Homo sapiens: one gene and its partners. The protein of the gene in region 1 purifies or fractionates together with the protein of each later gene. This does not show direct contact. Each region holds a gene or a part of one and is shown in the gene's direction. Other genes may lie near its edges.

Evidence for each region.
Region 2: the proteins of VRTN (region 1) and SALL1 purify together in Homo sapiens (affinity purification with mass spectrometry; one large-scale study listed by BioGRID and IntAct). This does not show direct contact.
Region 3: the proteins of VRTN (region 1) and SALL3 purify together in Homo sapiens (affinity purification with mass spectrometry; one large-scale study listed by BioGRID and IntAct). This does not show direct contact.
Region 4: the proteins of VRTN (region 1) and ZHX2 purify together in Homo sapiens (affinity purification with mass spectrometry; one large-scale study listed by BioGRID and IntAct). This does not show direct contact.

The regions. Positions count from the first base shown.
Region 1 is NC_000014.9:74,353,096-74,361,099, forward strand, and holds the end of VRTN (vertnin), read left to right. Parts: intron 1-3,687; 5' UTR 3,688-3,688; coding exon 3,689-5,797; 3' UTR 5,798-6,913; downstream 6,914-8,004. UniProt on the Homo sapiens protein: Acts as a transcription factor that regulates development of thoracic vertebrae.
Region 2 is NC_000016.10:51,131,006-51,138,404, reverse strand, and holds the end of SALL1 (sal-like protein 1), read left to right. Parts: intron 1-852; coding exon 853-1,293; 3' UTR 1,294-2,423; downstream 2,424-7,399. Other genes in the region: uncharacterized protein LOC105371253, read left to right, coding at 3,184-3,229, 3,600-4,204. UniProt on the Homo sapiens protein: Transcriptional repressor involved in organogenesis. Plays an essential role in ureteric bud invasion during kidney development.
Region 3 is NC_000018.10:78,975,487-78,984,231, forward strand, and holds the start of SALL3 (sal-like protein 3), read left to right. Parts: upstream 1-4,331; 5' UTR 4,332-4,788; coding exon 4,789-4,870; intron 4,871-8,745. UniProt on the Homo sapiens protein: Probable transcription factor.
Region 4 is NC_000008.11:122,782,773-122,790,776, forward strand, and holds part of ZHX2 (zinc fingers and homeoboxes protein 2), read left to right. Parts: intron 1-113; exon of another isoform or gene 114-397; intron 398-8,004. UniProt on the Homo sapiens protein: Acts as a transcriptional repressor. Represses the promoter activity of the CDC25C gene stimulated by NFYA.

The DNA.
Region 1 (8,004 bases):
TGAGACCACCCTGTCGGACATGGTGAAACCCCATCTCTACAACATAAGCTGGGCGTGGTGGCATGTGCCTACAGTCCTAGTTACTCTGGAGGTTGAGGCAGGAGAATCGCTTGAACCCTGGGGGCGGAGGTTGTAGTGAGCAAAGAATGAGCCACTGTACCCCAGCCTGGGTGATAGAGTGAGATTCTGTCTCAAAAAAAAAGAAAAAAAGTGTTTGGTTTCAACTAACTTGTATTGTGACCTTGGGCAAATTAGGTTAACTTCAGTTGCCTCAGTTTCCTCACCTGTAAATTGGGGATAATGGTAGTACTTAAAGTATTAGTGTCAGGATTAGGACAGTGCATGGCAAATAGTAAATGCTCAGTAAATCATAGTTATTAGATCTTTGTGCAGTGAATAGATTGTTGCTACCCCTTTGAAAGGCTGTTTCTGGGGCAGCACTTCTCAAACTTTTTGGTTTCAGGACTCCTGTACGGTCTGCAGACCCTGAAAACCTTTTGTTTATATAGGTTATATCTACCAGTGTATATTGTACACAAAATTAAAAATAAGAAATAAATTTTAAAAAGCCTGTTATACAGTAACAAATAATCATTTTTATGAGAAGTGACATTTCCAGAGCAAAAAAACTACTTTTTTTTTTTTGAGATGGAGTCTCACTCTGTCGTCCAGGCTGGACTGCAGTGGCGTGATCTTGGCTCACTGTAAGCTCCGCCTCCCGGGTTCACGCCATTCTCCTGCCTCAGCCTCCCGAGTAGCTGGGACTAGAGGCGCCCGCCAGCGTGCCCGGCTAATTTTTTGTATTTTTAGTGGAGACGGGCTTTCACCATGCTAGCCAGGATGGATTTTTGTATTTTTAGTAGAGACAGAGTTTCACCATGTTAGCCAGGCTGGTCTTGAACTCCCGACCTCAAGTGATCTGCCTGCCTCGGCCTATCTTCTTTTAAACCAGATACTATGGAGACTTGGAAAAATGTTAAATAATGTCCGAGAGCACATTATTCTACATTTTTACATTTTACATTTTTCTGTATCTCCATAGTATTTGGTTTAAAAGAAGATGAGTACTTTCTCATATCTTTCTATATTCAATCTGTTTTGATATATTGTTTTGGTGGAAGCATCTGAAGAAAATCTAACTTCATCAGATATATAGATGGAAAAAGGAGGAGTATTTTGATCACTTTTTCAGTGGATTTTTTTGATATTATACCAAAACTTTACAAGTAGTAGCTTCTCAAAGCTTAGTTATAATGTGGAATTTGAAACCATATCCATGAACTTTTTGTACCCTGTTATATTAAAATCCATGGGTCTTTTTTTTTTTTGAGATGGAGTCTCGCTCTGTCCCCAGGGTGGAGTGCAGTGATGCAATCTTGGCTCACTGCAGCCTCTGCCTCCCGGGTTCAAGCAATTCTCCTGCCTCAGCCTCCTGAGTAGCTGGGACCACAGGCATGTGCTGCCACTCCTGGCTAATTTTTGTATTTTTAGTAGAGACGGGGTTTCACCACATTGGCCAGGATGGTCTCGATCTCCTGAGCTCGTGGTCCGCCCGTGTCGGCCTCCCAAAGTGCTGGGATTACAGGTGTGAGCCACCACACCCAGCCCCATGGGTTTCTTTTATACTTTGAATGATTCTTCTACAAGTGCATGACTTTGTAACAGCACCCATTGGCTATTTGGAAAATGTTCACTGAGTGATGTAGATCTTTAGTGGAAACAATTGACAATTCATTATACAGCATAAAAAATTATATTTGTTAGGGCTGGGCGTGACGGCTCACACCTGTAATCCCAGCACTTTGGGAACCTGAGGCGGGCAGATCATTTGAGGTCAGGAGTTTGAGACCAGCCTGGCCAACATGGTGAAACCCCGTCTCTACTAAAATTACAAAAATTAGCTGGGCATGGTGGCATGCGCCTGTAATCCCAGCTACTCGGGTGGCTGAGGCAGGCAAATCTCTTGAACCCGGGAGGTAGAGGTTGCAGCCAGTTGAGATTGCGCCCCTGCACTCCAGCCTGGGTGACAGAACGAGACTCAGTCTCAAAAAAAAAAAAAAAAAAAATTGTCACCACTGATCTCATCAGAAAAATTGAGATTTTCAGATGGAAGCTGATAAGTTTTTATGGGCAGCAAATAGTTGTTTCCCTTGAAATTACAGTCTCACTTCATTCATTTTTGAGAAAATATCTGCCAAATATATCCAAATCTGAATGACCAGTGTCTATTAGACTTTCTTTCAAGTAAAAATTGTATATCATGCTAAAGGGAGCTAATTTATCAGAAAAGCAGAACAATCATCCAATGGAGACATTCATCATACCTCGGGTTGCAGCAAGCGTGTTATAAGTATGCCCCATTTGATTACACCCAGTATTGAAAACGACATGTACTTAAGGATAACGGTTTTCTTTCTTTTCTTTAAAAAAAAAATAGCATCATTTATTTATTTATTTGAGACAGAGTCTCGGTCTGTCACCCATGCTTGAGCACAGTGGCATGATCTCTACTCAGTGCGGCCTCCACCTCCCAAGTTCAAGTGATTCTCGTGCCTCAGCCTCCTGAGTAGCTGAGATTACAGGTGCATTCCACCATGCCTGGCTAACTTTTTTTTTTGTATTTTTAGTAGCAATGGGGTTTCACTATGTTGGCCAGGCTGGCCTCAAACTCCTGACCTTAAGTGATCTGCCTGCCTCAGCCTCCCAAAGTGCATGAGCCACTGCACCTGGCCTCTCTCTTTTTTTTTTTTTCTGAGACAGAGTCTCATTCCTGTCACCCTGGCTGGAGTGCAGTGGTGCGAGCATTGCTCACTGCAGCCTCGGATTCCCAGGCTCAGATGATCCTCCTGCCTCAGCCTCCCAAGTAGCCGGGACTATAGGCACATGCCACTGTGCCCAGCTAATTTTTGTATTTTTTGTAGAGATGGGGTTTTGCCATGTTGCTCAGGCTGGTCTTGAACTCCTGGACTCAAGCAGTCCACCCACCTCAGCCTCCCAAAGTGCTAAGATTACAGGCATGAGCCACCACGCCCAGCCAACATCTCTTTATTGTCTCATTTATGCCCAGAACAACTCAAGCATATTTTATTAATTTTTTTTTCCCTTTTGGAGACAGTCTCACTTTGTTGCCCAGGCTGGAGTGCAGTGGCTCTAACTCAGCTCACTGCAACCTCTGCCTCCTGGGTTTAAGTGATTCTTCTGCCCTAGCCTCCAGAGTAGCTGGGATTACAGGCTCTTGCCACTATGCCTGGCAAATTTTTGTATTTTTAGTAGAGATGGGGTTTCACCATGTTGGCCAGGCTGGTCTCGAACTCCTGCCCTCAAGTGATTCATCTGCCTTGGCCTCCCAAAGTGCTAGGATTACAGGTGTAAGCCACCGTGCCTGGCCTATAAAGCAGATTTTAACACACCATTCCCATTTTATAGAAAATGAACAGAAGCATAGAGAGGTTAAGTGATCCAAGGTGACCAAGCTTATGTCAGAGCCAGGATTCAAAGCCAGGTTCTAGAGACCACACTTTTCCTCAGTACCATTCAGTGATGAACCAATCCCGTCTGTTGTGGGAGGACGGGAGCAGATAGACATTACCTTTTGGGAGAAAGTGCAGGAGTGGACAGGGCACCTTTGCTAGTCATCATCTGGGCACTTCGACCTGACTACTGCCCCTTTATCTTTTGCCCTGGCAGGATGACTTCTCGGAACCAGCTGGTGCAGAAGGTGCTGCAGGAGCTGCAGGAAGCAGTGGAGTGCGAAGGCCTGGAGGGTCTCATAGGTGCTTCCTTGGAGGCCAAGCAGGTCCTGTCTTCCTTCACTCTCCCCACCTGCCGGGAGGGAGGCCCTGGCCTCCAGGTGCTGGAAGTGGACTCGGTGGCCCTGAGCCTGTATCCAGAAGATGCTCCACGGAACATGCTGCCGCTGGTGTGCAAGGGGGAGGGCAGCCTGCTGTTCGAGGCGGCCAGCATGCTGCTGTGGGGTGACGCAGGCCTCAGCCTGGAGCTGCGGGCCCGCACCGTGGTAGAGATGCTGCTGCACAGACACTACTACCTCCAGGGCATGATCGACTCCAAAGTGATGCTGCAGGCCGTGCGCTACTCCCTATGCTCTGAGGAGTCCCCTGAGATGACCAGCTTGCCCCCCGCCACGCTGGAGGCCATCTTCGATGCCGACGTCAAGGCCTCCTGTTTCCCCAGCAGCTTCTCCAACGTGTGGCACTTGTATGCTCTCGCCTCTGTCCTCCAGCGGAACATCTACTCCATCTACCCCATGCGCAACCTCAAGATCCGGCCCTACTTCAACCGTGTCATCCGGCCCCGCCGCTGCGACCACGTGCCCTCCACGCTGCACATCATGTGGGCTGGCCAGCCCCTCACCAGCCACTTCTTCCGCCACCAGTACTTTGCCCCTGTGGTGGGGCTGGAAGAGGTGGAGGCTGAAGGTGCCCCTGGCGTGGCCCCAGCTCTTCCAGCCCTGGCCCCACTCTCATCGCCGGCCAAGACCCTGGAGCTGCTCAACCGTGAACCTGGCCTCAGCTACTCTCACCTCTGTGAGCGCTACAGCGTCACCAAAAGCACCTTCTACCGCTGGCGGCGGCAGTCCCAGGAGCACCGGCAGAAGGTTGCTGCCCGCTTCTCCGCCAAGCACTTCCTGCAGGACAGCTTCCACCGGGGGGGCGTCGTGCCACTTCAGCAGTTCCTCCAGCGGTTCCCGGAGATCTCCCGCTCAACCTACTATGCCTGGAAGCATGAGCTGCTGGGCTCTGGCACCTGCCCGGCCTTGCCCCCCAGGGAGGTGCTGGGCATGGAGGAGCTAGAGAAGCTGCCGGAGGAGCAGGTGGCTGAGGAGGAGCTGGAGTGCTCCGCACTGGCGGTGTCAAGCCCTGGAATGGTCTTAATGCAGCGGGCCAAGTTGTACCTGGAGCATTGCATCTCCCTGAACACACTGGTACCCTATCGCTGCTTCAAACGCAGGTTCCCTGGCATCTCACGGTCCACTTATTATAATTGGCGGCGAAAGGCCCTCCGGAGGAACCCCAGCTTCAAGCCGGCACCAGCCCTCTCTGCTGCTGGGACTCCCCAGCTAGCATCTGTTGGGGAAGGGGCTGTAATTCCTTGGAAGAGTGAGGCGGAAGAGGGGGCAGGGAATGCCACAGGTGAGGACCCTCCCGCCCCCGGGGAGCTCCTGCCACTAAGGATGCCCCTGTCCCGTTGGCAGAGGCGTCTGCGCAGGGCTGCCCGCAGGCAGGTGCTGAGTGGGCATCTCCCTTTCTGCCGCTTCCGCCTCCGCTACCCCAGCCTGTCACCTTCTGCCTTTTGGGTCTGGAAGAGTCTTGCTCGGGGTTGGCCCAGAGGCCTGTCCAAACTTCAGGTGCCGGTCCCCACCTTGGGCAAAGGGGGGCAGGAGGCTGAGGAGAAGCAGGAGAAGGAGGCTGGCAGGGATGTGACAGCTGTGATGGCCCCACCTGTGGGGGCTTCTTCAGAAGATGTAGAGGGAGGGCCTTCCAGAGAGGGGGCCCTGCAGGAGGGGGCCACAGCCCAGGGCCAGCCCCACAGTGGGCCCTTGCTGAGCCAACCTGTGGTGGCAGCAGCGGGTGGCAGGGATGGCCGGATGCTGGTGATGGACATGATCGCTACCACGAAGTTCAAGGCCCAGGCCAAGCTGTTCTTGCAGAAGCGCTTCCAGTCCAAGAGCTTTCCCTCCTACAAGGAGTTCAGTGCCCTCTTTCCCCTCACTGCCCGCTCCACATACTACATGTGGAAGCGAGCCCTCTATGACGGCCTGACCCTGGTAGATGGCTGACAGGGAGGTACAAAAGGGGCTGGGAAGAAGGGGGACCAGTTTGGAGAGGGTCAGGGACCTGAGCTGACCCCAGGCTTGGCCAGGATGTCCTTTGCTCTGGGTCCCACAGTGTCTACCCTAAGTCCAAGGGTATATTTGTGTTATTTTCTGGCTCCAGGACAGAGAATGCCAGAAATCAGCCATCTGGTCTCCCGTAGGAAACTGTGGGACCAGAGATATCCTCTTTCGTTGTTTGCTGGTCATATTTTTACTGTTATGATTTAGTTTTTGGTTTTGATTTGAGTGGGTTGGTTGGCCCCCTTGCTGGAGTTGGAAGCCGTATGTATGTCAGGGGGTTTAGAGGGGGGTTGGTTAGCTAGAGCTGCTTTCAGCTTTTCCTGGAGACAAAAGGAGTGTTATAGCATGATCATCGGTCCCACTGGGCAGAACGTTATCTTCAGTTTCTTTTGGGGGTTGGCATCCTCTTTACTCAGTTGTTTCCCAAAGGAACATTAGGCTCGAATATGGGGGCCAGGTGTGGTGGCTTATGCCTGTAATCCTAGCGCTTTGGGAGGCCAAGGCAGGAGGATCACTTGAGGCTAGGAGTTAGAGACCACCCTGGGCAATGTAGTGAGACCTCATCTCTTAGAAAAAAAAAAAGAAAGAAAATCAAATGTAGAGCTGATCAGCAGCTTGTGCCTGGCATCCCCAAGGGAGAAGGTGCCAGGTCAGCAGGAGCAGCAGCAGGGATGTATAGAAAGAACCACAGCTGGCCTCTAAAGGATGGCACTGAGGCACCGGAGATCTTGAGGCACTGGAGATCACTGAGGGGCTGGCCTGTCCCCTGCAAGGAGTGTGGGACCAGGTGGGGCAAGGCTGGGAGATGCAGGCTCTGTTTGCAGATTATGGCCCAGAGTCTCTGCTTGTGGGTGCTTGATCCACCTGCTGGGACCCTGCAGTCCTCGGCCAGCCTGGCTGTCAGTTGGGGATTCCACCTTTCTGCTGAGCGTCTTCTCGGAGCTGGAGGCCCATCTTCAGTGAGAGATCACAAAGCGGCCAGGCAGGTGGGAGACTGAATTTGCCTTGTTCGAGAGTAACGTTTGAAAACCAAAGAAATAAAGTGATGCAGTGCCCACAGTGCTTGGTCTCTGGTATTTGTTTTGCCAGGATGTGATTGCCCATTCCCATGCTCCCCTTTGGCTTAAGGGGACAAGAGTGACCTTCTCTTTCTCGATGGGATGCACTCAGGTCTAGAGCTTGGGGGATGAAAAGAGTTATTCTGGGGACTCTGAATTGGATCTAGAAGTGACCTTGGGTGCTTTTCCAGCTGAAGGGTGGGGCTCTGGCTACCTGGAAATGCCCTCCCTCCCATGGGAGAAACCTGGCGTTCCCAGGTGGGGAAGGGGTTGCTGCCACCACAGGTTGGCTCGACAGGGGCCCACTGTGAGGCTGGCCCTGGGCCATGGAGGCCAGGCCAGCACCTGGAGTCAAGTCTGTGCCAGACATTCTATTTAGTCCTTGCAATGTGCTCGGGCAGGTAGGCCCAGTCCTGTGACTGGGACACTCTAAGGACACAGCCTTAGAGTGGCTAATTTGCATGCTCCCTCTGTCTGGTGGGACAAGGGTGAGGGCAGCCTGCTGTAATGAGCAGCAGCAGGGATGTAATGGGAGCTTTAAGCCCAGGCCTTTGCCTGTTTGGTGAGGGAGGAATCATTAGGGAAGAAGTTCCCGTAGGCCCTTCTTCTGTCTGGGTTTCCTGCAGTGGCTGGCATCCTTGTGCTCCTGGGGAGTCATTCTTGCCTCTGCTTTTTATTCACCCCACATCCAATCCATCAGCAAGTCCTATTGACGCTGACTCCAAATGATACCCAGAACCCTCTCTCCACTCTACTGCCATTGTCTCTCCTGGCCCACATCACAGCTTCCTACCCCATCTCCCTGCTTCCCTGCTTCCACTCTTGCCCCTATACCCCTATACAACCCATTATTTTTATGATTTTTTGAGACAGAGTCTCGCTCTGTTGCCCAGGCTGGGGTGCAGTGATGTGATCTTGGCTCACTGCAACCTCCACCTCCCAGGTTCAAGCAATTCTTTGCCTCAGCCTCCCAAGTAGCTGGGATTACAGGCACCTGCCATGATGCCTGGCTAATTTTTGTATTTTTGGTAGAGATGGGGTTTCACCACCTTGGCCAGGCTGGTCTTGAACTCCTGATCTCGTGATTCACCC
Region 2 (7,399 bases), on another chromosome or scaffold:
TAAGTGCACCAAATGAATTGCTTTACCTACCAAGAAAGCCTAGCGTTGCCATGGGGTATTGATTAAAGACCTCCACGTGGCCTGTGTGCTGCCCGTATCACTTAATAATTAGGGTTCTCGGCGTATGTATCTATTTTTCATAACTATGCAGTCCAGCATGGTTTGTTTGTCTAAAAACAATAACGTCACTGCTCTGCTAATGGGTATTATGATAATTGATTATACAGCATTTCCTACTGATATGTGTTGGAAATAAAGCAAATATGCTTAAGTTCTAGAGCAACAGTTGAGTGCTCTTAGTGTGTACATTTTTCTGTTGACAGAGTATTTCTCTGGAGATTGCTCCCAGTAATGTGAGATGAATAATTACTTTCTGGCTTTTCTCTCCATACGCAGGCCCTCCAATGGGCAATCAGGGAGGGATACCTTCTCCCCATCTGAAAAGGACATTTATAGGGTAAAGGGTGTCAGATACAATACTTACCATTGCAATGAGAGTGGACCTAACAATTCTAACCCTGAAAGGAGCTATCCGCCACTGCCTGGCTTGCTTGAGGCCATTATAAGCTAAATATGGTTAATAAAAAAAGAGTAAGTAAGGCATCCTTGCCTTGGAAGAGGGGAGACAGCCCAGGGCTGCAGAGAGTGAACACGTTATTACTAGACAGGAGGAATGGATGGTTCCTGTTGCCTTCACTGTCTGTCACATGATGAGAATAGACATTTAGGCCACTTGCTTTGTGGACATTTGGGATATGAGTTGAGACAGATTCAGCTATTAAGCTTCTCTCCCCCTCCTCTTTTTTTTCTCTCTCTCTCTCTGTCTCTCTGCCTGCCCTCCCCATATCTCAGGTACACATGGGCACTCACATGTGGAATAGCACCCCTGCACGACGGGGTCGGCGGCTCTCTGTGGATGGCCCCATGACATTTCTAGGAGGCAATCCCGTCAAGTTCCCAGAAATGTTCCAGAAGGATTTGGCGGCAAGATCAGGAAGTGGGGATCCTTCCAGCTTCTGGAATCAGTATGCAGCAGCGCTCTCCAACGGGCTGGCGATGAAGGCCAACGAGATCTCCGTCATTCAGAACGGTGGCATCCCTCCAATTCCTGGAAGCCTCGGCAGTGGGAACAGCTCACCTGTTAGTGGGCTGACGGGAAACCTGGAGAGGCTCCAGAACTCAGAGCCCAATGCTCCCCTGGCCGGCCTGGAGAAAATGGCAAGCAGTGAGAACGGAACCAACTTCCGCTTCACCCGCTTCGTGGAGGACAGCAAGGAGATCGTCACGAGTTAAAGCAGCTCGGGCTGGAGACATAGCATTCATTCCTGTTCAGAATGCGACCTATGGTGGCCTCCTACTCCTTGCCCCCCACCCCGCCCCGCCCCTTCCTTCTGTTCCCCAGATCTATGAACTACAACATTATGAAGACATTCTTTTGTACCTTGTTCAACTTTAGAGTTCTAAGAAAGCTTATTTATTAGCGATATAACCTTGCTTTGCAAACAGAATGCAAGCGTTAACTTTGGTCTTCTGTATTTTGGACTAAATACTAATTGACTAGAGTGCTGTAAACTTGCTGTAACATTTATGGCAATTGCAAGTTGCCCTGCTAGGCAGTTGTAATCTGGCATTAACTTATTTTCTATATCCAGTTTAATATGAATCTGGTGTTGATGCAATGCCTCAGTGATGCATTAGATCTCTAATAAAGTCTGTATATACATGTACACTTTGATCCTGCTGGAAAATTTTATCAGCAAACACATTGTCTAATCTTTCAAAACAGATTTAAGGAAAGGACTGAAAGTACAGACTGAACAGTGTGGTTCTTTGAAAGGTTTGGTTTTTTAATTTTTATTCTAAAATTCAACCTTTTTTTTTGTCGATTTAACCATTTCCATTTTGAACTGCTATTTGTATTGTGCTTTTTACTTGAGTCGTCTTCAATGTTAATAAGTTTCTGTACAGTAATAAGCACGCAGAATTCTTTAGAGAAAAAGAAAACAAGCGTTGTTTTGGTAGTTGAAACTGAGACGTAACATTTTGCCTTGTAGGTATATTCACGATAGAAAATGTGTGCTGGAATTTCACAATGCTGCTAAGTATAGCATCTTGAACAACCTTCAGTGGAGAAAATGTAGATGCTCTTGTATATACAATAAGAAATATCACTTTCATTCAAATGTACATATGTTCCTTACAAGAGCAAATGCTTCTTCTTGATCAAGAGAGCAGGTATAGTGTTTGTTTATTTTGTCTTAGGTATGGAAGAAAAAAATTGGACTGTTACATGCACTTTCTTGGAAAGTTGAAAGGAAAGGGGGGGTCCAATTTCTTTAACATTTAATACTTACTAACAACAGAGATACTGTAATTTTACTCAAGTAATCAAATACATTTTTTTTGCAACAGATAAAACAAAATACTGTGTCTGTGTTTTTAGAGTGCATTTCCATTTAGCCAGGCCCCAAATGCGTTTTAACATTTCCCCAGGCAGCAGTCAATTGTGTATGTGAGTGTGTATCCCTCTTTAAATGAGGAATTGTAAAAGGCATAACAAACGGCTTTGCATGGGCCTGCGTTTTCTTTTATTTTGAAATTTGGAGGCCCTAGATATTTTCCCAGTATCTATGATTTATTTAGGAATGGATTTTATAGACTCCACTCGCTACCCACCCCACCCCCAAGAAAAGCAAAACAACGAAATGACATAAAAAGATGTTGTTGGAGGTTTTAACCCAACAGGTAAGTTTCTTTTAAGCAAGATATTTATGCCGATTTAGATTTCACTTTTACTATTCTGGTTTTATTTCACTTAATGCAGTCACGTTTTTTCAGGCAGCTGAGAGCCACATTGCTGGGGAGTTCCTGATGCTGCGGGGTTATATAATCTGACTTAAACTGGGCCTCAACCCAGAGAGGTCAACATGTTCTTTATTTAATTGGTCTTTTAGGCATTTAAACGCACATGCATATTTGAAAGAAAAAGTCTATTAGAAAGGTTATGTAGAGTCAGCTTGAATATTTCATCAAGCAAATTCAAATGGATTCTTCCCCTCTCCCTGTTGTTCTGGGGCGGAGGGGGGAACAGGCTTTCTTCCTCCTGAGCACTGTTTTGAGGTGAGCAAACGGACTGAAGGGAAGCTGTGTCCAGAGGGGTCGCCGATTTTTTTTTTTTTTTTAATGTTTCAGGGAGCTGGTGAACCGCGCATCCGGCGGTTGTGCCCAGGTAAGGTAGAAAGCGTCGGGCCGCTTCCTGCAGAAGTTTCCACCAGGGCGCGGGCCACTCGGGTCCGCACTCCCCCGACCCTGTCGTTAGACTCTGTGCCGAGGGGGCGCCCTCAACCCCTGCTCGGCCTCCGGGTCCGGGTCCGGGTCCGGGTCCGGCGTTCCAGAAGGTGGGCGCTGACCTGGGCCGGGAGAGTTCAGGGGAGGGGGTGGGAGCCCCCAAAGCCAGAGAGGGCGGCGGGGGGGGCAGGGGAGAGGGTTGCGCGACGTCGTGATTGATGCTGAGAATCACCCCGAAGGCTTGGCACCCGAACATTTAGAGGGACAGATTTCTCGCTCTCCTCTCTCCTGTCCCGTCCCCTCCGCTCCAGGAGTGACATTTTTTCCCCAAGAGTGGGGACACGGATTGAAGGCCGGAGTTCCAGCCAGAACTCTGGTTCTGCGCGGGCCAGATGGAGCTGTTTCCGTTGCACAGACGACGTCCACAACTTCCCATCGCTGGGCGTGGCGAGGAGGGGCTGCCCCGGGCTGCGCGCCCTTTACGCCCAGGGACAGGGCCTGGGGACATCTGAGGGAAGTGATCCGGGGGGCTGCCGCCCACCGAGAGGGGCAGGCTTCGACAGCGCCACCCTGCCGCACATGCCCGGCGCCTCGCCGGCCCTCTCCAAAGGTGTCCAGGGGCTGCGCCGCGACACTTTCCACCGAGCGTCTGCCAGCAGCTGGACCCCGCTCTCCAATGGCCGCCGCCGCCAAGTCCCCGGGGCTCCCGCACTCCGGGCCGGGCGCGAAGGTCACCGCCCTGCACCACCTTGGGCTGCGCGTCCATTTCCAAGAGGCAGGCAGTGGGGAGAGGGGAGCGGGGGCGCTGTGTTCCCTTTCCCTCTCATCACTAACCTCCCACCTTCCAGCGGTTTCTGAAAGTGAGTTAAGGGGAGCAAAAGTCACTTCTCTTTCCGGAGCCATCAGAAGAGTTTAGGAAAAGGTCAGAGGGTCTCTCTGTCTCTCCGTCTCTTTCTCTCCAACCCCCTCCTCTCTCTCTCTCTCTCTCTTTTTCTCTCTCTGTGTCTCCTTTTGTCCCTGCCTATCCATTTATTGATTGACTATCTTTCTAATCTATTGATTATTACCTGCCCATTCATTCCCCTTTCCATCCATTTCCAAAATAAGAAATCGCCCTCTGCCCTGCTTCTCCTCCCAGTGTGAAAAATACACTCAGCCTTTGGGCTCGGCCCGCAGAACAGAACTGGATTTACATTTACAAAGCAACAGGGTTGAGGTGAAGGCAGCTGACGGGCGCGCACCCCCTCCTCACCTACTCCCCGACCCTTGCCCCGCTACGCCTCACTAGAGGTGCCTCGTGGTGGTATTGAAATCACCGAGAACCGAATTCACTGAATTAAGGAAGGATTGTTGCTGCAACTAAGTTCACAGAATTGTTTAGCTAAAAATATTCACTTTGGTGACAGTTTCCCCAGCTTTTTTTTTTAAAAAGGGGGGAATTGTAAAAATACAGAACAGCCCAGAGAAGAATTTAAGAAACGCTTTGTGTCTATCACTCAAAATTTACAAACGTTAGGAATTTGTAGTTTATTCGAGGTTTTTTGTTGTTTTTGTTCCCCCCACCCCTCCCCAGGAACTGCGTTTCCTGTTCTTCCTCTCTGCCTGGGTAGCTGTCATTCTCTCATTCTCTCTATCTTTCCTTCCTTATATTCCGTCGTGCTTTTTCTTTCTTCCTTCTCCCGTCATCTCCACTACCCTCCCTTTTCCACCCACCCCCCCGCCACGGGCTTCCTTCTTCCTGGAAAATATACTTGGAAGAGCAGTTTGGTGATTGACAGGGACCTGGGGAGGGGAAAAAAAGAGAGAGAGAACCAATGACAAACCCAAGCTGCTCGAGATGACCCCTCCCTCCCTCCCTCCCCCCCCACCCCCACCCCCGGTCTGGGTTGGGGAAGGGTGGGTAGCGTAAGGGAGGGGTCCTGCAGATCAGCTGGAGATACCTGAAGCTGGCTTTGCGCTTTGAGTTTTTACATCCCAATCTTCACAGGCCAGGTCTATTCAAATGGCTTTTTAGGGAGTGGAGGGAGGGCATTTTTTTTTTTTAATTACAAGAAAAAAATGTCTTCAAACAGAAAATTCTTAATGATTTGCAGTTGACATAAATTTCTAGCAGTAGATTATTTGCTTATTGTTTTTGGCATGTCGTGAATGTCAAGAATGAGAGAGCAAAAAAAAAAAAAAAAGCTCCTACTCTGTTAAAACTTAGCAGTCCTGTTAGAAAAATAAAGCAATGGATTATTTGCTAGGAGTTACACACTCCATCCCAAATGAAACAAATGTCAGAGTGGGTAACAAAGTGGAAAAAAGTATAAAGTGAATTTCAAAGGGCTCCACAGTAAAGCGCAATCTGAGATTCACAGAAAAGTAGAGACGGATAAGACAGGAATTAGGTCATCTCGTCCAGACCCCAGGAAATATGTCTAGATCAAAGCCTGCTCTGTTAGAATAAACAAAACAGGACCCATTGGGCCCTACCAATATTTTCATCTCAGTGCTAAGAGCTGCTAATCTAACCAGCTCTATTTGATGAAAGGGAGTAAAAATTACAACTGTAAAAATGACGACGTAATAAATGTCCTCTCAACTCTTAGAGGAAGATAAAGATTTAGATTTGAGCTAAAAAGTAACAAGATCCAGGCCCAGATCAACACAAACTTCCTGGAATTTTAGCACTAAGTAAATTATCTAATCCTAGCCATTGTTCCCTCCCTGCTGCCACCCCTCACCCCCACCCATCCCGTGTACCCCATGCAATTGAGTATGCCAGATGATTTACATTAAAAATTTGTTAAATTTTAACTGCAGTCTGAGGACATTGCAGGGGGCCTTTGGGGTTCCCTTCTTTTGCATTCCTTAAAGACCCACCGGTTTTCTGTCCCCCACCAACCCCAATGTGGCCTGCCCCCCTGGCAGTTGTTGGGGTAGCAGGCTGGACTTCTTTGTGTGGATGCTTTGTTTAAGCCCAGTCTTAAAGTTTGGGCTCTTTTTCCACCGTGAAGGGCAGATGGACAGAGGCCTGGCACGTGTGTCCCATCAGCCTGGCTTGGGGTCCACACAGTTCGGCAGCTCATTGATATTTTCGCAGCTAAGCTGAAGTACTGTGTAAGTACTGGGTAAGACTTTCACCGCCGACTTGATGGCCTTCAACCAATGACCAGGGAACATTCGATAGATAGAAACATCTACAAAAAAGGACAGGAAATCCCAGAGAAGGAAAATTGGACCAGGCTAAATCCCGGGTTGTAGTTCCTTACTGAGCCTGGCTTCCTCTTAACTGTTTAAACATAGGACTTGGCTCCTCTCATGTTTCTGTGTCCATCTGAGCTCAAGTTGAACAAAGACTCATCGGCCGCATGTCAACCTGGCTCCAGTGCTTTCTGAAGCTAGGGACGATGACAACGGGGGTGGCAAGTGTGACTGGCCTTTCCGAACGCCACCAGGAACAGACTGTTTTCTGTGTGTGGCCCCTGGCTGCTCACCTCGCCAAGGGCAATTCCAGGATCAGATTTTTACTTACATTCTGCGGAGGGCTTTGAAGACAAGTGAAACTGCATTGGAGGCCACACACAAGTCGATCCTTCCTTATAAGACCCAGAGTGGGACCTAGTCCAGCTGCACCAGGCATAGCTGAATCCTGACACAGTGCAGTCTGTTAGGTCATGGATGCCTGGAGACCAGGAGGTCACATCATCTTCTCATCCCAACTACATTCAGGATGAGGTCCTGGAAGTCACCTGGAAACAAGGGTAAACATGTAAACATGGTAGACCCCACTCCTGAGATTAGGGCCAGACAAAACATAACTATACTAATCAGCCTGCAGACCTGCTTCTGTATTCAGAATTTGGAATTCTCCATGTCTCATCTTGCTTGTCATCGTAACAATCCACTTAACAGATGACAAAACTAAGGCCCTGAGAGCAGAGAAGGAACATTTGGACACCAGGAGACCTGGAGCTATCACTAGCCTGAATGCCAACTTTGGGCATTTGGCAATCATTGCCTGATCAATGGTACCATTCCCCAAACTGTACCATGAGAGGTTAGACTTCCATCAATAGGCTCCAGTAGCTTCCTTCAAACTCTTGCCATGTTTATAACTACATTAGTG
Region 3 (8,745 bases), on another chromosome or scaffold:
CCACGGAATGTTTGCCTCTGATGGCTACGGTGAAGCTACACAGCGTCCTGGAATAAACACACAGGAAGGCTGCGGAGCACGTAACCAAAATGGACTGATACACTCCACACCCGGCTCACATCTGTTAAAAATATTTAGGCATATTTATCTCCAATAGCTTTGAAAGCAAAGGAAGTCACAGCAGTTGTATCCAGTGTGGACAGGGCAGTTAGCTATGTGCTGGTTTATTTACTTAGAGCATTTTATTTTTACGGGGAAAGTTATCTTCAAGTAGGCAAACAGAGGATTGGAAAAAGCGTTTTCAAAAAACCATAAATATAATTTTTGGCTACATGTTTCCTACACCCCCACCCAATGTAATAGAAAAGCAACATCTTTATAATTGGCACTTGACATGCTGTTTGCGTTGGGCTGTGGCACACCAAGCACAGATTTCCTGTTGATGGAAACATTTATCATCCTGATTGCCCCAGAGTGGCAGGTGGTGTTATCAATTACCTCTTCTTACCAATAATAATATTAGTATGGTAATATCTTTGCTCAAGTGAGAACCAATTAGCAGTCACTTGTCACAGCATTAGAGGCACCAAATCATGCTGAATTTAACTCTAAGAACCTAAAACAAAAGTTGGGGGTAGGGGAGGAAACGGAGAGAGGTGGCCAGAGAATAGAAGAAAGGAACTTTGGGTGGGGGGAGGAATGAAAGAAGACAGAAAATGAAATGAAAGCCCTAATATTTGAAGGTGTTTTTTTTTTTTTGCATTAAGTGGTTGGGGAAAATAAACACTTGTAAACAAAGCATCAAATGCACCTTAGGTAAAACTAGCTTCTGTGAATCTGGGGCCAGGTAGCTTCAATAAACTGTGACTGTGATGGTAAATTAGAACCAACTACTCCACTTCCAATCAATCTTGCAGATAGGCTTTGTTTTATCTGAATGATACCGATTGAACCAAACACCTAATTATATGTTTCACTAATGTAAAATATACAGCATTAATTTGTAAATAATATTAGACAAAATAATAATGTGTCACCTCAAGATGAAAACAACATTGCAAGAGGAAAGACAATTAACAAATTAGATTTAATTACAGGGAAGAAAAGCAACTTTTGTTTTTGCGAGTGTTTAGGTATGACAATATTAATAGACAGTGGTCATGTGGTGACGAGTATGTGTGTGCCCCTCCGAGTCTGCACTACACAGGCACATGGCCCAGCGTCGCTTTAATCTGGGCACGACTAGAGCGCATGTCCTGTCTCATCTGCGAAAATATTCCATAGACACGTTGTCACTTCGCAATAAATCTATGGTTGCAACTCAGGCTTAAAATGCAAATGCTTTTATTAAAAGTTGTCGCACTGAATAAGAGCAATTAAAGAAAAGTTTCTGATCTGAGTATAGAGAAGGAAGAAAGGCGGGAACAAGCCAGTCAAGAAGTCGCACGCCTTTTGTTTTCTACCTTTGCTTTCTTAAAAAATTGATCTTGTTCACTTGTCAATTTTTAAAAGGGTGCACCGCAGAAATTACTCGTGCGCACCATTTCCGCTGTGGGGGCATTCGTACAAGTTTCCGCTGCACACACAGCCTCCCGGGCCCTCTCCTCCAAGGCTCTGCCGGATCTTCCAACGAAATCCCAGAGCAGCCTGCGCTGGGGAGCCCGCAAGTCTCTCCAGATCTCTGCACCCCGCACCGCCCGGAATCTGGGACGGCGCCCACGCAGGGCTGGGCCAAGGGCAGAGCTCGCACCCTGCCTTCACGCCCGGTTCACTTGCGTCCACGAAAGCAGCGTGCCGGCCTCCTCCATCTTCCCACTCGCGCAACGCACGGCGACCCGCGCGACACTTCTGCAATCTGAAGGCTTGCTTCTTACAAATAAAGGGCCAGAGTCTCACACTTGCCTTCGTTGGAGGGACTTAGAAGATCCTCCCCACGTCCACACCTTGTAGGAAATGCAAAACAGATCGATGAAATTAAACAGTTGCATTTGGAAGCCCCAGAAAGACCTAAAGACATCGTGCCGGTTTGTTGGAGAGAGGGTTGCGGGACAGGGGGAGCGGGCCTTACGCAACAGAAAAGGTGGGCACAGCGCGCTCAAAATGACCCAGTGAGGAGTTGGTGCCGCCGGGCCAGAGGCTGCGAGTCCAGCTGGCTCTGGACTTGCTCCGCAGGCGTCAGACGCCGTGGGAACCTGTGTCTGCTTCTTCTCTCCAAAGTGTATCGGTTAAAAAAAAATAAAAGTAGTAGTAGTAGTAGTGGTAAGGAAAAAAATAAAAATAAAAAGGAGACACAATTAACCAGGTCATAAAAGCTAGGGCACCTTCGACCAGGGCTCTGGCCCTCCAGCGATCGTTTTGCGTTGTTTCTCTTCTCAAAAGTAGTCTCAGACCCCTGCCTTTCCGCTGCAGCTCTGCGACTTCCCCAAACTCCTTAATCCTGTAAATTCTGCAAGAAACTCCCATCCTGCAAGCTGCTTTTCCCCCTCCCCCCTGCGTTCCTTTTTTCTCTCCCCACCCGCGCCGCCTCTCTATGCCCCTCTCTTCTCAGAAAAATTCCTGCCCCCCGCGCGCCCCAAAGCCCGGGCTGCAAACTTTTCCCCGCCGGGCGCCTCTGCGCCAGATGCCGGAGCGTCTCCACAAAGCCTGAGCATCTGCACAAGTTCGCAGCCTAACTGCGGGATAAAGACGTTTCCCCCGTAGCTTAACTAGAAAAGCGCCATCGATGGGTGTGTTAAACGGGATAACTAGAGATTTCAAACACCTTTTATTTGCCTGTCTTGAAAAAAAAATCTAAATGAATACGCCCGCTACCAAAAGGCAAAATAAAACCAACCTTAAGGGTTTTTGTTGTTTTTTTTTTTTTTCAAAAGTGGCGATAGGGACTGTTTGGACCTGACTCCAACCTGCGCCCTCCCTTCCTCTATGACCCTCCTGCGCTTTTCCTGGAACCCAAAGCTCTGACTTCGTCAAACTTACACAATTAAAGGCAGGCGGAAGAACGCGGGCTGGGAAGCAAGCGGGAAGATTCTAGAATGGAAGGGAGCCCGCCGAGCGCCGCGAGCCGCGCCAGGCCGGGTCCGATGGAGCAGGCGGGGATTCCTCCCCCAGGCGGACCCCCGCCACCAGCCCTGCCGGGAGCTCGCGGCCTGCGGAGCGCCCGGGCTGGCCGCTCACCGCCCGCTTCCCCCAGCGAACGACTCGGGGAAGCTCCAGGAGGCCATCTGTGCTGACGGTTCACACCAGACAGGACCACTTGCAAGGACAAAAATAAGAAATTTAGGAAACGAAAAAAGACGTACTGGGGCGAGGGGCGCGGGCGCGGCGACGACGGGGCCGGGGGCACATCCTGGCGGCCGCTCGGGGAGAGAGGACACGCGCGGGAAGGAGCGCGGCGGGTGCACGGCCGCGGGTGGGAGTACGCGCCTGTGCGCGCGGGGCGAGGGCGAGGGCGCGTGCGTGTGACCGCGGGGAGGGGGCGGGCGCGTGTGCGGGGAGCGCGCCGCGCCAGGGGCCGAGTGTGTGGGGCCGATCCAGAAGTGCGCAGCCCCCTCACCTGGCCCCCGTGTCATCCCCGAAATCCCGGGAAAGGGTGGGCCGCGCGCGGGAGTTTGGTGGAGTTGGAACTTTCGGTCGCGCTCGCTGCCCACTCCGCTGGCGCCCGGTGGCCCGTGGTGAAGGGGGACTAGGGTGGGGAACACCGGGGCCCTGCGGTCCCCTCCCTTTCCTGTATTTAAGAAGCCGCCGGCGGCGCAGAGGCCCAGGCGGGCTGGCGCGGGGGCGAGGCGGCCCGGTGGCAGCAGCGGGCGGGGCGGGCGCTCCGGAGTCGGTGGGGCCCGCGGGTTGGGGGGCGGGGAGAGGGGGGAGTGGAAGGGAGGGGGAACGCAGGGGAGGGAGAGGAGGGGAGGAGCCGCGCGGCCCGCGCCGCTTCCGAACCGGAAAGTTGGTCTTGCCGAAGTCCTGCCACCCCGGCGTGCGCACTCCGCTCCGCTCCGGCCGCGAGCCTCCGAGCCCGGCCGGCCGCCGGGGGAAGCCCGCGGAGGGGACGCGGGGCCGGGCGAGAAGGTCCGGAGAGCGGGGGGCACCTGAGCCCGGGCGGGCCCGCCGCGCTGAGCGGCGCTGAGAGCCGCGGCGGAGCAGCGAAGGCGGCCGGCCGACCCCGCGCGCCCGGAACAGGAGGCGCGGCGCCCGAGCGGCCCGGGCGAGACAAAGGCGCCGGGTCGGAGCCCTGCCCGCGGCCGCTCGCTCCGGGAGGGGCCGCCCGGCGGCGGCGGCGGGGGGGGCGCGGGCGGCGGCGCAGACACTCTATAAAGGGGCGAGCCCGGCGCGCCGGCGGAGACGGCGCCGCGCGGACGCCGCCAAAGTTTGCTGCCTGCGCCCTGCGGAGGGACGGCCACCGCGGCCCGCGCCGCACCCGGGCCCCGCCACAGCCGCACCCGGGGCGGCCGAGGAGCGCGGCGCCGGAGCCCGCGATGTGAGGCGGCGCCGGGCAGCGCGCGCCCCGGTCCCGAGGCGCCGCGGCCCCCTCCTCGTCGGCGCGGCCGCTAATTGCGAGCGCGGCCTCATTTGCATAGGCCGCCGGAGTCCGCTGGAGCCCGGCCAATCGGCGCGGCCCTCCGCTAATGGCCATGCATTATTCACCAGCCTAATTGCTCAGCCCCATGCGCGGCCCGCGCAGCCGCCGCCGCCCCGCGCCCCGCGCCGCGCGCCCGCCAGGCCGCCCCGCGCCGTCCCCGCCGGCCGCCCCGCTGATGCCGCTGCCCCGCGCGGGGCCCGAGCGCCGCTAGCAGCATGTCTCGGCGCAAGCAGGCCAAGCCCCAGCACCTCAAGTCGGACGAGGAGCTGCTGCCGCCTGACGGGGCTCCCGAGCACGGTGAGGGCCGGGGCTGCGGGGTGGCCGGGGGGTCTGGGGCTGCCCGTCCGGGCTGGGGAAGCGCGTGCGGCGGGAGCGGATGCGCGCGTCCGGGAGCGGGAGAAAGTTCCCTGCTTCCTGCGGGCAAGCGTCCGCCCCGCGCCAGGCCGGCCGCGGGGCCCCGGGTACTTCGCCGGAGCGCGCGCGGCCGCCGAGAGAGTTGTGGGCGAAGTAAACTTGGCTCCTCTCCTCGGAGTCGGGGAGCTGCCCGCGAAGGGCGCCGAGGCCGCGGCCGGCTCGAGGACGGCTCGGAGGCCGGGGCGGGAGGGAGTCCACGGTGCCTCCGCCGCCGCGCCGCCCCCCAGGGTCTCTGCGCCAGGACGCTGAGGCCGGCGGCGGCGGGGAAGGCGACCGCAGCCCACCTACCGCTGGACGCGGGTTGGGGACCCCGCCGCCCGGCCAGCTTTGTTCGGGGGCCCGCGGCCCCTCCCGGGCCCCCGCACCGCCTCGGGTGACCCGCGGTGTCCCAGCGCGTTGACGCAGCCTGTGATCCCTCGCGAGGCGAGGAGAAGGTCGGGGGCTTGGCTCTGCCTAATGGCCGCCCGGGGAATTAAGCTGGGGGTGAGCGCAGCGGCGGCGGCCTGGGCCTGGCCCCTGCTCGCGGCGTGTTTCCGGGGCGTTCGTTGCAGCGTCTGCGCGGGCCTTTTCTCTCCCGTCTTTTTGGATCCGCCGAGGCCGGGCGCTGGAGACCTCGGCTTTGCAGTCATTTCGCTGGTAGGAGCGTCCTCTTCGAAACATCCAAGAGCAAAGGGCAGGCGCCGCGAAAGTTAAGAGACTGGCAAAGGGCTGGACTTCCCAGAGTGGCGCCTTAGCCCCGCAAAGTTTGGGGCGCCCCCACCCCCTTCGTCGAGTCAAAACCTCGGCCGGCGGCGCCCGGGCTTCGGCGCGCCCCGCGGGGCCCCCAGGGCGCCAGGAAAGAGGGCCGAGGAGGGGCGACCCCACGACCCCGAGCCCGCAGCACAGCTCGCAGTAAAATAATTTGCTCCTTAAAAAAACAGGCAGGCCAACTTTTATGATTGACCTGTTATAAGTTGTTGGAGGCAGATGGTGATCTTTTTACTCTGAGAATGAGACTGTCTGCGAAAAGGAAACGGGGCGGAAGAGTTTCCCACACAGTGGAGTAAAGTTTGACAAAGCGGGTAGACACCCATGTCGGATGAGAACGAGAGAGCATGCTTATGACGCGGCTGGAGAATTAATGAATTAAATAAAATTAGTGAGCTCGCTGGGGTCTTTTTGTTGCGGTGGAGGTAAGGGAGTCTTATCTGTGTAGCCAAGTCAGCCAAGATGAGAACAGGCGATATGCTAAAAAGAAACGCTTGCATATGGTGGGTAGATTAAGGACAAAGAATCTTTTTGTCATGGAAATGGATTTTTTTTTGTTTTGTTTACTTCATCACATAGAATTTCTCACACTTGGTTTGTTTTGTATCGCCCTCAATGACTACATGATCAAATGAATGGATTTATTTCTGCCGAATGAGAAAGACAGTCTTTCCTTCAAAAGAACTACATTGCGTCCCAGTGAGGAATTTTAAAGCTTTATTATTGTGGCTCCTGAATGGCTTAAAATCGGCTTTCACAGCCGCCCCAAAATGCAACAATGTAAATACTTCTCAGCTTTGTAGGGTCGGTATCAAAATGTGCGATGTCTCCTTTTATTAAAGCATATTTTAATTAATAGAGTAAACCCCCTGGTATTTAACAATTAACAAGCTGAGGCACTGCTATTCATTTTTAATTTCACTTCAGAAATGTGAGCATGCTGAACTTAATAGTGTAAACGTGTGGAGGGCTATATCGCCTATATTTGAAAGCCTAAGATGGGATAAATTATTCACAAGTTCTACTTTGAATCCCTCTTGTTGCTGCTCGAATTTATTTAGAGATGCAAAATATTCAGGTTTTTTACCCGTGGTAGAATTGAAGTTCTTGTCAAGCCTGTGTTTTTCACAGCATCCAGAATTGTAATCCAGACGTTGCCACAGTTCCTGGTCATGTTTTGCAAGAGGCCCAAAATACCCTGTGTGGGGCCGAGTCTTGGTCGAGCAGCTCACATGCTTGTTTGAGAGAGTTTAGGCAAACTATTTTTTTTAAGTTCTTTCTCATTTAATTATATTCGAAGCAGCTTGTTCAAGGAGCATAACAGACACTCTGTTCCGTGTTAAGTCAAGGAATGCCCCATTTGTGTATTACTCGGTCGCACTCAGCATCGTTCCTAAGATAACTAAGTAAAAATTATAAAAAGGTAAATGGGTGTGGAAACCAAATTACTCCAACCTGAGTCAGATCTCCTCAAAATTTTAATTTTGTTAAATGCAATGGAAATAAACAGACCGTGCCGGAAGTTGCAAGTGAGCTCAGTTAGTTTAGTGTTTTAGAAACGAGGTAAATAATTCCTTTGTATCACTCGGGGAGTGACATATTAATTAAAGCAGCAGGTCCATCTACATGCAGTAAAATGGAAAGCTACTGATAATGTCCTGCAGAACAAATATTCTATGCAAAAATGTTTAGTATAATGGGGGACAGAGATGCACTCACATTAATTTACAGCACAAAGCCTGTATCTCTTAAAAAAGAATTATGATTTATTTTTGAAGCAATGAAAAGATTCTATACAAAAATAACTGGTGCTACCCAAACCTTACCACTACAGGAATGAAACATGACGTGTCTAGAATGAGAAAAAGTAAGGATAATTTATGTAAAGTTCTAAAGTCATGCTTTTGTTAAAAAAAAAAATTAAGTCATTGAGACATTCCTAACAGAAATTGCTTTTTAAAATTACTTACTTGCAAATGATCTCATTCCTATTTTAGAAGAAAGGCGCTGCAGCTTTAGGATCCAGTGAACTTTGCGCCACTAGTAATCCTGTGAGCCAGCTGAATATTTTTGTTCTAAGAAAAATTAATTAAAACTTCCAATGACAGTTATATGCCCACTAAGAACTTTAAAAGATACAATACTGCTATTCTTTATTGTATAAAATATAATTTAAGAAAGATGTATTTTGTTGTTGTTAGAAAATATGTATTTAAGAAGGAACAAAAGGGTATTATAATTTAAAACCATTTACCATCCTGTATTTTGTTTGTTAGCACTAATTGCTTCAAAGTGTGTTTTTTTTTCTGCCAACTTAGAAGTATATGGCTGTCTTAAAAATCCTTTTAAATGTGTTGAGCATGTGATTTAAGAATTTACCAGTGGTTTTCACAGACTGTGTTTGAATTAAGGGAAAGAAGCTCGGCCACCAGTGCTTGGCGCAGGATCTTTTTCTTTTATCTGTATATGCATGGTTTGCCCTCAGTGCTCCCCCAGCACACTACACACATTTACAATTCAGCATACCAAAAGGAACAATGCAGGAGCTACTTTCTAACATTCACAGGCAGATTGCTTTCTCTGAAACATGAAAGGTAAAAAGTAAGTAACCGGGTTGGGTGAGGGGAGAGGAAAAGAAGACTTTGCCAACATTTCTTTTAAAAACAACATTAAAAAACTTAACCTATTTAAAAGTGCACGTTTCTGTGATCAACAAAAAAGCATACCAATTAATTCCCAGCTTGCAGAGAGAGAGAGCTGATTATGTAACAGTTCTCGAATTTTATGTGCAGTACGTTTTCAACTTCCATGGCATATGCATTATCCAATATTTTTAGATCTGTTGTTCAAAGCCAGAAAAAGGTATGGAGTAACAGCAGGAATTACTTAGCAAGCTGATTCTTTTTTGTATACAAGATGATGGTAAAAGTGGGTCAAATTTCATTTCCAACTGCAATCTCTAAGAAGCTGTACCATTCATTTCCAGGTAGCCCTAAGAATATTTTCTTTTG
Region 4 (8,004 bases), on another chromosome or scaffold:
CCGCTGCCAGCTGGCCGGAGCCTCTGCCAGCCCGAGCCCACGTTCGCCCCCCTGAACGGCAGCTGGCGCTTTTCGTCTGCCCCACAAGAGGTTAATCTTTGTTGGTGTTGCAGCTTCTTTGTGGCTTCCCCAGGACTTGTATCCTCGGCTTTGCAAACTTGCCCTTTTCCCAGCCGCTTTGCAGGAGGCTGCGGAGACGAAGATGAGCGGAAAGTTGGAAACCAGCAGGCATCACAGGACGGTCCCTTTGGCCTCGTAGCTGTGCTGAGCCTGGGAGGCGGAGGAGGAGGTGGAGGCGGCGGCGGAGGAGGGTTTGTCAGGCTGGGGAGAAAACTTGATGAGGAAGCCAAATTGTGATTTGTTCAGGTTTCCACCTGATTGATAGTCTTCAAAGCCAGTAGGTCTCTACCTTCAACTGTTTCGCGGTGGCCTTTTGTTTGTCTGGGGCGTGGAGAAGGAGAGAAGTCGATGAATAAGGACTTTCCCTCGACCCCTCCCCTTTTAAAGAGTGGTTGCTCAGCTTGGCCCCCTGGGACACTGCCTTTTAGGCCCTGGAGTTCTTCCCCAACCTGCTCTCTGATCACTTTCTCTCTGTTAAGTTACCAGATCTCCAGGTCTCAGGCAGGCCCCGATGAGCAGAATGGAGTTAGAGGAGAGGATTCCTTCCCCCAGCACTTCTTGAATTGCCCAGACCTCCCACAATTACCCTCTTAAAACCACACACACACACACTTACTCACTCTCTCCTTTATATATGGCAGAAATTAATGCCTGTAGAAGTGAAGGGGGTGAGGTTCTGAGAGCTCTTCAAGATTTGAGTCAAAAGGTGATTTTCTGTTTATGAGGGCAGCGAGTTTAAGCAGTTCACTCCCAGGGCAGTAATGTCAAAAAGCGTTTGGATGACGACCAAGTGGAATAAATATCTTGTAAAATGGCATGTTTAATAGTAAAAATAGATTAATGGAGCTGTCAAGTGGTTGAATGGGACTACCATAAAGGTTTAAGTTTAAAGGGAAAGTTATGTAAAGCTGTATACACAGCTTCTTTTAAGGCCAGAAGGGAAAAAATCTACAAGTAAGGCTGAAATGTGTCACTGACAATAATTGGACTGGTGATGTGTGGAAATATCATCGCTGTTTAAATGCTCTGCTCCGCGATTGTTCTCTTGCGCACTTGTACCTTTCCTTCTAGCCAGGTTTGCTGTCAGCTAAAGGATGCACCTGAAGATTGTGCTTCAGGGGAAAATGCAAGAAACCAAGATTCTGGGGCACATCAGCTATCTCAACTAATGTCCATTTGAAGGGGGAAAACACCACTGTTTGTTGGCACTGAAGAAAGGGTATTCCTGTGATGTAAGTGCAGTGTATCTTGACATGCTGAAAGGTGGCCCCACCCGGCGTTTCTCATCCACATCAGGACCATGTGATTTGGTGGGATGCTGTACACTTATCAAAAATAATCATGGCAATGTTTGATAACAGTTTCTAACACTGTTATGGTGTGTGAGGCACAATGCTGTATATTTTACGTGCTTTATCATTTAATTCTCACCACAATCCTGTGAGCTAAGTACTACTATTATCCTCCGTTTATGGTTGAGGAAACAGAGGCTCCAAGAGGTGAAGAAACTTGCCTGAGCGACACAGCAAAAAGCAAATCCAGGCCTAACTTCATAGCCTTAACCAGTCCATTGTAGCAGCATTCAGATACACGACGTCACAGTTAGAATAAAAAAGTAAAGGGTCAGGTCCAGCAGAAAAGAGGGAACAGTAGCCACTGTCCTGAGGTCCGAACTTCAGAATTTACCTGGATTTTATTCCTTTATTCATTTATTTAGCAACTGTGTGTTGATTTATTTATTCATTCAGCAACTATAATGTTCATTATACTAATAAGAACCCATAGCCATTAAGCATTTTTGTATGCCAGGCACTATCCCAAGTGCTTATGACTAGACTATTTTGTCTTCATGACAACTCTGATGTAAGTACTCTCATTCTCTCCTTTTTCTAGATGAGGAGGCACAAGCCCAGGTAAGTTAGCTAACTTGCCCAAGTCCAAACAGCTAGTAAGCGGAGTGGCAGCCCCCAGAACACACACACTCTGCTGTTGCAATGCAGAGCGCATAACCAGATGTATGGAAATGCTGGGGAGACAGAGCCCCCCTGGCAGAAACGCAAAGCACTGCATGCTCCAGACATTATGGAGATGCTGGTGGGATACACACCCCCTGCCCTCTAGGAGTTTGAGCCGACTGCGGGGAAGCACTCATTAAACCAAATCAAGCAGGCTTAGATAAGTGCTATGATTGAGAAAACTAACCACTGTGGAAGCACAAGGAAAGGCATGATTCTTCTGCTCTGAGGGGATCACAGAGGATCTCCTAGAGGTGGGAGCAGCTGAACTGCCCCATGAATGAAGAGGAACAATGTCCAGAGGTGTAGCCAATATCACTGCATTCGGCTGCTAGCAGCAGACTCTTGACTACCAGTGACTTAACCAGATAGGGACTTTTTTGTGTCAGACAACAACGGGGTGAGGGGTAAAGGGAGATGATGCCTCAGCTGTACCATTGGGAACCCAGACTACTTCTTTCTACACTGCCATGCTTAGAGTGGAGGCCTTTGGCCTTAGGTTTATCATCTCATGGTAGGAAAGTGGCTGCTACGTCTCTAGGCCTCAGGTTTGCATTCCAAGAAAGAGAAAAAAGGATGAATGAGTCTCAAAGAGCTTTTACCCAGTACAGCTTCACTGCTATATCTGGGAAGGGGCACCCCTCTCAGGGACTTCTGTCTTTAGCTCATTGACCAGAGCTGTGCCACATGGTGACTACTGCCAGGGAAGAGCAGTCAAGTATTTTTAGTTGGACCCATTGCTGTCATGAGCAAATTGGGGTTCAACTTGTAAGGCAGACGGGGTGAAAGGAGGAATGGTTGTTGAGTTGGCAGGGAGGGCATGTGCCGCCTGAGAAAGAAGGGCCCTGGGAGCAGTGGACAGGTACCCTGGGGAGGTGGAGAGGGGGATGCAGGGAAGGCTGTGCAAAGAGATGATGCCAGGCTTGGGGGTGCACATGGAGGAGGCTGGCTTTTAATCTCTAGGTACTAGGGAGCTATGGCAGGTTTCTGAAGGTCACGTGTTTGGGGAAGGGAAGACTAAGACTGACAGCAGAGTACCTTGTGCAGACAAACGAGCTTAGTTCTTATTTGCAATAAAACGAGTTCTGCAAAGTTTCAGGCCAGGGAACAGTTTTGCCTCAGGGCAAAGAGAAGACCATGTACAATAAAGAAGTGAGGGATGATTTGCTTTTAGGTCCTGTCAATAAGAATCCAAACTTAACCTGATGTGAGTCAGCTGTTACAGGGAGGCAATCAGCTCTCCTTTCTGGATAATTCAGTTAGTGGGACTGGAAAAGCTGGAAGGGGGTGCCATTTACTCTCCAAACACTACACTTGCCTTTTTCCTGACCTTTGGGTCTCCTGGGCCCTAGCTGCAGCTCCACCACTCATCAGCAGGATACCTTTGGCCATGACCTTCACCATTGCTTTAAATCAAGGAGATGATATCAGAGCATGTCAGAGGCCTTCCCAGCACCAGATTCCCCAGGCTAGATTCCTCCAGCAAGGGCCAGCCTCTCTGATTCTCTTTGCTCAGGGTATTACCTTTATGACTTTGAGCTGTTACTTACCTCAATTTTCTTATCTCTGAAATGGAGATCACTTTAGTAGCTGCTGTATGAGTTGTTAGGAAACTTAAGAAAGTTGTAAAAAGGCTTAGCACACACCTCACATGTGAACTGTGCTCAACAAATCACCGTCATCACTGCAACCACCTCAAGAAAGTGACTTTATTGTAAATTTGAGGTGCCAAGTAATTAGCATGTGTGGATTTCATCATCAATCCCAGGACCCTGACTGTCCCATCTCATTGCCATTCCCCTTCTGCCTCCCCCCACCCCCAGTACACACATGCACTCATTTTGTGGCAAGTCCGTACCACACATCAGGTACCACACGTACGGTACCAGCACATGAGGTACCGTAATGTGCTGTGTCATAGCCACATCCAGACAGCACATCTCAGGAAGGATGCTTGGCTGTGCACATGCCCCTTTGGTAGACAATAAGGTAGACATTATTTTCTGTATTGACAAGATTATTTCATTTTGAACTGAAAAAACTCGTGATTCCCCTCCCCCACCCTTCTCTAATGCCCCCACCCTACATTGAGCAGGTTGTGATTTTAAGAACATCCACCCACAGTCTGCTTCCTGTTCTTACACTTGTAATCATGCAGTTAAGAGGGGTTGATTGGCAGTGGTGTGTGTGTGTGTGTGTGTGTGTGTAAAACAGACCCCATGCAGAAAAACAGTCCTGACAACAGTATATCAATTTCCACCCAAACTTTAAAATGGAATAGAGACACCAGGGCCAGAACCTGTCTTCTTGCTGATACCTCTCTTTCCCCCCTGGTAGACAATATTTACCTGTTAAAAGTCACAGTTCACACCCTTTCTTCCTCTTTCTCTCCCCCTTACTCCCTAACATTAGAAACACTTAGTGGAGATTAATCTTGTTACACATTGTTTCACTGCAATGGTATTTAACACATAACAGAATCTGCAGTGAATGAAATTCTTGTGCTATTGATCCATGAGGGGTCAATATGAAGGAATGTGAGCCAGGCATTCACTGTGGTGTAAGAGATTTGTGATATATTTTAGGGGTGCACATGTCTAGTTTGGGATGGAATAGCGGGAAGCCCACGCTGAGTTTATCTTTCAGAGAGAAATCAGCAAAATCCTGGGGACCATTTCCTGTCAAGTTCAGGGTCAGGGAATAGATTCATGGATCTCTGGGGCTTCGGGGAGTAGCCAAATTGAGTTAGCTCTTTCTTTGGGAGGAAATCTTCCCTGTTGGGGGCCCAGGGGCCACTTGTGAGAGACAGAGAAGGAGCCTGCTATTGAGGCAGAGAGGAAGAGGGTTATGAATGAGAGTTCCTGGGCTACAGCCCCTCCTTGTCCTGGTTGGATGCCTGCAACTGCAGCTGCTGGGCTCAAAAACATCTGCAGAAAACTGAGGAAGGACCACAAGTCTAAGTTAAGGAGGAAGTGGCAGGCACTCATGCATGCCTGCATATGCTGTGCAGAGGTGACCGTTTAAACCAGTGTTGCAGAAACACTCAAGAAAAACACTCCTCAGCAGGCCTGACATTTATGCCCCCACAGCCATCTCATCCCCCACAGCCTGGTTCACTCTGGCTGGTGAAACTGAGCAAATACAAAGCTCCCTACACAACCAGATGCACAAAGCTCCCCACATACCCAGACACAGCACAAGCACATGGTGTTCACCATGTTAAGAACAGCAATAGCCACAGAAAAAGTAAGCACCTACTATGTGCTAGGCACTCTGCTAAACACTTTCCCTTCACAATGTCATTTAATCTGACCCTGAGGAGTAAATTGAGAGTGGCAGTGTAATTCCACTTAAAAGGTAGGAAAAATGGGCTAGCTTGATGGCTCACGCCTGTAATCCCAGCACTTTGGGAGGCCGAGGCAGGTGGATCGCTTGAGCTCAGGAATTCAAGGCCAGCCTGGACAACATGGTGAAACCCCATCTCTACAAAAAATTTAAAAAACTAAAAAATGAACTGGGCGTGGTGACACACACCTGTAGTCCCAGCTACTTGGGAGGCTAAGGCAGGAGGATCGCTTGAGCCCGGGAGGTCAAGGCTGCAGTAAGCCATGATCACGTCACTGCACTCCAGCCTGAGTGAGAGAGCAAGACTCTGTCTCAAAATAATAAAAAATAAAAAAAGATAGGAAACGAAAGCTCAGAGGGGTTAAGTACTTATTCAAGGTCACAGAAAGAAGGTAGCAAAGACAGAATTCAAACTCAGCTCAGTCTGATTCCAGAGCTTTCTGTTATTGTACGTAAGTCTTCTGGAAGCCTGGCCCACATCAGCCTGGAAGAGGTGTGAGGAGAAGGGACGGTTTTAGATCGTGCTTTGGGATAGTCTGATTGCTTTTCTGATAAGGGGCATAGGGGTGCATGCCTTCCTGCATGAGTGTGTGTGCACGTGTGCGTATGAGAGTTTAGTCAAAACAGGAGAGAATTACAAATCCGCCTCTGTTATCTACAGCTCCCCCAAACCACCCCTCCTCAAAAAGAGGCCATTGTAAAGCCTCTATCAGTGTCTCCAAGAGAACATTCTCCAGGGGCATTGCGCCCTCCGCCCTCTCCTCCTCGGATCTGGAGAGAAGGAATCCCCGTGGGCTGAAAGCTGCAAAGTTGGAGCCGGAGGAGAATCTGGGTGCTCCTTTCAGGATGCAGAGTGGCCTCGCCAGCCAATGGGGGAAGGGGGTGGAGGAAGCAGGCGGAGGGAGGGTGGAGAATGGCTGTGTTGCTGTTTTTATACAATAAAAGAGGATCATTGTAATTGGGAGCCTTTGAATCATAACACGTCTGCCTATGGCTCTCCCCAGCTGCAGAGCCATTTAGTTAAATAGCACACAGAAAACTCCTTTCAGCTGATATTACGTTCCCGCTGTTCTTAAAATATGAGACTGGGCTGAATTGCTCTAAGGACAAAGCCATCTCAGGCGCCACCCCACCAGCCCCTGGGTGTACCCAGAACCCCCCAGGGATCTCCATAGCCTGTGGAGGAGGAAGTTTAGAACTTATTTTCATTTGCATGGCACCCTGTCTTTTTGAAGATAGATTAAGATATTTGCACACAGCCTGGTCAGAGCTGGATGTCATGGTGAAGTTTTTTGTGGCAGTGGTGGTCCGGAGGGAGTAGGGAGAGGCCAGGAGGCCAGGAGGCCAGCACTGGCGGTGATGGGGTGTGCCTTTGCTTTTGTGTAGGGGAGGTAAAGAGGTAGATAATGCAGGGATGTGAACTGACAGATAGAAGCTGGAGAAAGAGACTGCCCTCTGGCCAAGACATTAAGGGGAAAAGATGGGTTCCAGGCAGGAGAGGATTGAAGCGCCAGCTCTCCTCTAAGCTCTCCTAATAGAGAACTCTGCGATTTCATTATCTTGTAGAACTGCCTGTTACTTTCTTCTGGGGAACTTTGTGTTAGAGAATTGATTCTGAGTATGTGGTGAATTTCTGCCAGAGACCCATAGTCCAGGAGAGCCCGAAGACTTCACGTTGTTTCCAAGAACCAGGGCTCTTGGGCAGAAAGAGCCACAGAACGGAAACGGTCTTGATCACTTCACAGTTAATGGTAAACATTCCAAAGAACGGAGAACTTGCATTCGAGAGTGTGAACTTGGACAGTGCCTGACTTTGGCACTTTTAGAATAGGATTTATGGATTTCCTGGTACAGGATATATAATGTCCTCTGGAATCACTGAAAGAAGATTTTGAGAGGATGAGTCTAGTAGCAACATGGTACATTGGTAGGATCCAGGAATGCTCTAGCTGAAAAAAAATTTAGGGATCAAATAGCCCAGCTTGAGGAAACTGAGGCCCGGAAAGGTAAGATAATTGGCCCAAGGTTATACAGTCCTATGGCCATGTATTATTTTTCTTCTTCTCTACAGTCTAACTAAGGCCCTTTTGTTTCCTCGGCCAGCTAGCCAGCTCATCACAGCACCTTCCCTCCCCGCTTTGATTCCTCTTTCCAGTCAGCACTCACTGAGCACCTGCCAGAGGAAGAAAACAATACTCCTGCCTTCAGGAAGGTCATAGTCATTGGCACTTAGCTACAACATCTGCTGCCCATTGTCATGCTAGCCCTCACTGACATCACAGGCACAAATCTACATGCCTTTTGTGGGTGTGCTCGGACAATCCTAAGAGAGGTTGGGATTCTGTTTTGTTTTTTGTTGTTGTTGTTATTTTTGAGATGGAGTCTCACTCTGTTGCCCAGGCTGGAGTGCAATGGCGTGATCTCAGCTCATTGCAACCTCCGCCTCCTGGGTTCAAGCAATTCTCCTGCCTCAGTCTCCCGAGTAGCTGGGACTACAGGTGCACGCCACCATGCCTGGCTAATT